2 separate regions of the Homo sapiens genome follow, and region 2 is linked to region 1. Evidence: fine-mapped expression QTL. A gene starts in region 1. The other region holds a variant in brackets. All regions are shown on one strand. Distances are from middle to middle. Region 1 holds the start of SZT2 (SZT2 subunit of KICSTOR complex). Region 2 overlaps TIE1 (tyrosine kinase with immunoglobulin like and EGF like domains 1).

What was found.
Region 2: its variant is fine-mapped to the expression of SZT2 in blood mononuclear cells (TOPMed, PIP 0.98).

What each region holds. Positions count from the first base shown.
Region 1 is chr1:43,388,320-43,391,226 of GRCh38, forward strand. SZT2 (SZT2 subunit of KICSTOR complex) reads left to right here and starts at 1,580. Exons shown (of 72, transcript NM_001365999.1): 1 at 1,580-1,676. The coding sequence starts at 1,650. MED8 (mediator complex subunit 8) reads right to left here and starts at 1,481. Exons shown (of 7, transcript NM_201542.5): 1 at 1,440-1,481; 2 at 1-109. The coding sequence starts at 1,445. RefSeq lists an enhancer at 1-130 and a silencer at 1,571-1,900.
Region 2 is chr1:43,320,627-43,323,533 of GRCh38, forward strand. TIE1 (tyrosine kinase with immunoglobulin like and EGF like domains 1) reads left to right here. Exons shown (of 23, transcript NM_005424.5): 20 at 643-683; 21 at 770-866; 22 at 990-1,089; 23 at 2,025-2,482. The coding sequence ends at 2,096. Among named protein-coding and RNA genes, the nearest start is that of MPL, 16 kb to the right of the region's middle. RefSeq lists an enhancer at 317-1,516. The variant A/G (reference allele first, on the strand shown) is at 1,140.

The DNA of each region.
Region 1 (2,907 bases):
GGCCATACTCGTTCTCCAACTTGCAAATGAAACTCCCCAGAGAGTTCTTCAGATCAGCCACTTGACTCAGCAGTGCATCTAATGATGCCTCAAGCTGCTTCTCCTCTCTCTGCACCAATAGGAACAGGTTGGTCACCCAGATAAACGAGTATGACACATAGAAAGGAGGGCTGGAAAGCCAAGGAGATGGTGTGCAACACCAGTCAGGTAACACAGGATCTCATTGGCATAGGATAGCCAGGTTGTTTTCTATCTTTGGTATTTGGGTTATAGACAGCATCAACCCTGAGACCTTCCAACCTGTTTGCCTGACCCCAAGTCCTTCCACCAACTGATTCCTTTTCCCCATCACCTCCTAATCTATGCCTGGTTTTTCTCTGTGTTAGGTACACCCTACACTCCCTCACTGAGACATTTTCGACAGACCTAATGCCAGGAGATCATTCTCTCATGTGCACCTCTGTAGCACATGCACTCCAGCTTCCTCCATCCTAGCATCTGTGAGCCTGGCTGTCTTGTCAGTCTCTGGGAAATCTGCCTACTCATGAAGACTTCTCTGAACACCAGTCCTGCTCTCCCCTTTCCCTCCCCCAACCAACGACTCCAGCTTTCCATCTGCTCTCATCATTTTGTTTCAACCTTCTCCTTGCTGAATTAATATGCAATCATCTATCTCTGTGTCAATATTCCCGTGCCTCTTTCACAAGCTCAGTCAACCCATTAACATTTATTGAGACTACCAGCTGCAAGAAACTAAGTGACAAATGAAAAACAAAAACCACACATGCTTCTAAGCACTGGACAAACAAATTAAAATGCTGGGGGTCTGCAAAGCATTTCCTTCCCATCGGTGGTCTCCTGTTTTACTCCATTTCTTCACCCTTAACAACTATAGGGCACAGGCTGGGAAGAGGGATGCAAAACTGTCTTGCAAACCTGCCTGACAGAAACTTGATCCCGGGTTCCACCATGGCCTCTGATTATAAGCTGCTTAGCTTTCAGCCATCGCGGCCCACAATTCCCTCACTGCTTGGGCTTCTTTCCAATTAGATCCCCTGCTATATCGGCAACCAACAGCCTCCATCCAGCAGCTTAGGACAGGGCCTGAGCCAACCCACCACCTTCTTGAGCCGTCTTCCTTGGACTGCATCTCAGCCTCCCCGTATTACAACCTAATCCTTTCCCACGCCAAGCAAACAGGTGCTGCCTCCTCCCTCCGGATTTAGCCCGACTGTCTCCTGTCAGGCAAGCTCCACCCCCACCTCTAATCGCCGCCGCTCCCGCTCCAATTAGCCTCGCCCCCCAGCCCACATTCCCTTATCAGCCGTGGGTTCTGCCCTCTCTTCTCAGTCCCAACTCTTCATTCTCCTTAGCCAGCCCACTCTCGGTCCCTGTACCCGAAGCTTGCCAGCCGCTAGTACGCCCAACGCAACTCTCACCTGCATTGCGGCGGCCGAGGCGGCTGCCACGATTTCACTTCCGGTTTTCCAGTCAGCAAACGCCTACGAGAAGGCTTCGTCCACCAATCAGAAAACTGGAACTCGGCCCTCCCACCAACTTCCGGTTCCTGCTGGGTGCCGAGGTAGCGAGGTCAGGGGTCAAGAGTGGAACACCCTCACTGGCCCGGGCCGGCGCGGGAGGGCTGTGTGATGGCCTCGGAGCGCCCGGAGCCGGAGGTGAGGGGCGGGCGGGCGCAGCACTGGGCCCCGAGATCCGAGGGGGAGGGTCCGGCGGGCAGGCGTGGCGTTGGCCTCCTCTAGGTCTGGGGGTGGCCGGGCTGCGTAGCCTCGGCAGGGACCAGCCCAGCCCGGAAGGCCCGACTATGGTACCCCTGCGGACTGTGTATGGGACGCGGTCCGCAGTTTCCTCGGGGAGCTAAAGGAGTAACTGTTCGCTTTGTTTTGTTTACTGACATGTCACCCGCGTCGTCGTCTCTAAGACTTATAGCGGTGTTAACAAAACTTGTATTTTGACTTTCTGTTGCAGTTTCAATGGGCAACACGGCAGTAGATTTACTTTGCTGGTTTTTGCATTTCTTTAGGCATTGGAATACCATAAACAGCATGAATTTATTTAGTTCTAGGGCTCATGCTTTTAGAAAAGCAGCTTTAATTTCATGAAAAAAACATTTGAGTCGGACTGAGACCTCGTTCCAATATTGGCGCTGTCATGTAGCTAATCTGTGCAACCTCAGGCGAGTCTTCCCGGATCCTGTTTCCTTCTTTATAAAATATCTGTCTTATAGTGTGTTGTGAGAATCACATGTAATAAACCAGAAAGGTGATATGATATATTCGTTAAATGCTAAGGAACATGCAAGGAACCTTATATATGTTGTGTCATTCAGACTTGTGCAAGGAAGGTGGCATTCTCACAGAGGAGAAAACTGAAAAATGAGAAAGATTTAGTACCTTACTCAAATGCCACTCATCCAGGAACTAGCAGTTTGGAGTTAGAAGATCTGAGCTTAAAATCTCAGATTCGGATAAAACACCACCACCAGGAAAGGTGCCAACATATCAGTAGGTGGGAAGGGTGAGAGATGTGTATAATGATAGAAATAGTATTCATTACTGCATACATACTGCATGCTCAGTACCATTCTAAGCTCTTTACCAATATCAGTTAATCCTCAGCCCTATGAAGTGGACACTGTATCATCTCCTTTTTTTAGTTTAGGAACTGAGGCACAGAGATATTAAGAGTAACAAAGTAAGCCGGGCGCAGTGGCTTACACCTGTAATCCCAACACTGGGAGGCCGAGGTGGGCAGATCACCTGAGGTGAGGAGTTCGAGACCAGCCTGACCAACATGGAGAAAGCCTGTCTGTACTGAAAATGCAAAATTAGCCAAGCATGGTGGCGCAGGCCTGTAATCTCAGCTACTCGGGAGGCTGAGGCAGGAGAA
Region 2 (2,907 bases), 68 kb before region 1:
CAGATCACAAGGTCAGGAGATCGAGACCATCCTGGCTGACACAGTGAAACCCCATCTCTACTAAAAATACAAAAAGAAATTAGCCGGGCATGGTGGCGGGCACCTGTAGTCCCAGCTACTTGGGAGGCTGAGGCAGGAGAATGGCGTGAACCCAGGAGGCAGAGCTTGCAGTGAGCCGAGATCTCGCCACTGCACTCCAGCCTGGGCGACAGAGCGAGACTCTGTCTCAAAAAATAAATAAATAAATAAATAAATAAATAAATAAAAATACAAAACATTAGCTGAGCATGGTGGCACACACCAGCTACAAGGGAGACTGAGGTGGGAGGACCACCTGATCCTGGGAGGTTGAGGCTGCAGTAAGCCACTGCACTCCAGCCTGGGTGACAGAGTGAGACCCTGTCTCAAAAAAAAAAAAAAAAAAAAAACAAAACAAAAGAGCTCTAATTGTGCTGAGCCCAGGGATGGGGGCAGTATGAAGGAGCTTCATTGGCGCAGAGACAACAGCTGGCCAAGGCCAGATACTTACAGAGTAGACACATACAGCGGGGCTGGGAGGCACTGCACATCTTGGGCAGGTAGAAGCTAAACTGCTAGGGACCAGGGCCTAGAAGGTAACTAAGTGCATCCTTCTTATTTCAGCTGGTCCTTTGGAGTCCTTCTTTGGGAGATAGTGAGCCTTGGTGAGTTCCTGATCCCCGTCCCCCAGAGTGCCCCACCTTACCCCACGTGGAGCCCTGGACCGAGAGCACTTTGTCCCCTCCTGCAGGAGGTACACCCTACTGTGGCATGACCTGTGCCGAGCTCTATGAAAAGCTGCCCCAGGGCTACCGCATGGAGCAGCCTCGAAACTGTGACGATGAAGTGTGAGTCACCCCATCCTTGAGCTCCATGATCCTATCTCTGTGATGAGTGACCTCAGCTTTGATCCCTGTGACCCCATCACCCCAGCTGGCCTGACTCCTCATCTCAGCAATGCCCCCTCGCAGGTACGAGCTGATGCGTCAGTGCTGGCGGGACCGTCCCTATGAGCGACCCCCCTTTGCCCAGATTGCGCTACAGCTAGGCCGCATGCTGGAAGCCAGGAAGGTGAGGAGACTGGGGCTGAGGTGGCGGGCTGGGCTCACAGAGTGCTCCAG[A/G]GTGCCCTCTCAGAGGTGCCATGACCCCTGTCCCAACCACACTGCCTGCCCAACCTCCCTCAGTGGGGGCTGTCACCACGGCTAGGCTGGGCCCCAGGATGCAGCCTGCCTTTCCAGCCCTCACTGGTTTAGACACCAGGCCCTTCCAAAACTCTTCCAAGGCCACTGCTTAGCCCCAACAGCAAATCCCTACCTTAAGCCCCAAGTCCCAGACTGCTTGCCTGTCCTCTGCTGAGGCCATCAGCCTGTCCTCATCTGGGACACCTCTCCCCACCTGCCAGAGCCAGAGCAGAGTGCATGAATAGTCACTAACCAGATGGATGGATGGGTGAATGAGTGATACAGTAACCGTATGAATGAATGAATGGAATTAGTGGATAGATGATACAATAATCATATGAACATGTAATTCAATAACTCAATCTACTAACCATGTGAATAAGTGAATTATCAAATAAATATAATGAAAAATATATCAAAATTAGTAAATATGAAGAGTTCTTCAAGTAAATTAATGATTAAATAACCATCTTAAGAATGAAGGAATGATCAAATAACCATATAAATGGATGAGTCGTCTAAAATGGCTTTTGAACAGATAAGTTACTGAATGAATGAACGCATAAGCCAAGAATTCATTGAAAGAGTGCATGTAAAAACCCTCCTCTAACAATGGCATTGAGAGCCTCTCACCTGAGGCCCCAACTGTGGCCTGATGCCTTCACTGCCCTGGGCTGGTAAAGGCCACTCTTGGCCATGGGGCCATCTTAGGTCTCCAGAACAAATCAGTGTCAGTTCAAATGCCCCCACCACATGGAAGTCCAGGAGCTTGAGGCCAGATGCACCCCCATTCCTGGCCCCCACTAAAGCTTGCTCTGCCCCCAGGCCTATGTGAACATGTCGCTGTTTGAGAACTTCACTTACGCGGGCATTGATGCCACAGCTGAGGAGGCCTGAGCTGCCATCCAGCCAGAACGTGGCTCTGCTGGCCGGAGCAAACTCTGCTGTCTAACCTGTGACCAGTCTGACCCTTACAGCCTCTGACTTAAGCTGCCTCAAGGAATTTTTTTAACTTAAGGGAGAAAAAAAGGGATCTGGGGATGGGGTGGGCTTAGGGGAACTGGGTTCCCATGCTTTGTAGGTGTCTCATAGCTATCCTGGGCATCCTTCTTTCTAGTTCAGCTGCCCCACAGGTGTGTTTCCCATCCCACTGCTCCCCCAACACAAACCCCCACTCCAGCTCCTTCGCTTAAGCCAGCACTCACACCACTAACATGCCCTGTTCAGCTACTCCCACTCCCGGCCTGTCATTCAGAAAAAAATAAATGTTCTAATAAGCTCCATTCAATGTCTACCTTTTACTGCTGGTCAATCTTGGGGTGAGGGGCGTAGTTAAACCCAAGAGACAGAAACTGGCCGGGCGTGGTGGCTCACTCCTGTAATCCCAGCACTTTGGGAGGCCGAGGCGGGTGGATCACGAGGTCAGGAGCTTGAGACCATCCTGGCGAACATGGTGAAACCCCGTCTCTACTAAAAATGCAAAAAATTAGCTGGAAGTGGTGGCGGGCACCTGTAGTCCCAGCTACTCGGGAGGCTGAGGCAGGAGAATGGCCTGAACCTGGGAGGCGGAGCTTGCAGTGAGCCAAGATCGCACCACTGCACTCCAGCCTGGGCGACAGAGCGAGACTCCGTCTCAAAAAAAAAGAGACAGAAACTGGGCTTTCTAGGAAAAGAAACACTGTCTGAGGCCTCAGCCCTCTGTTGAGGT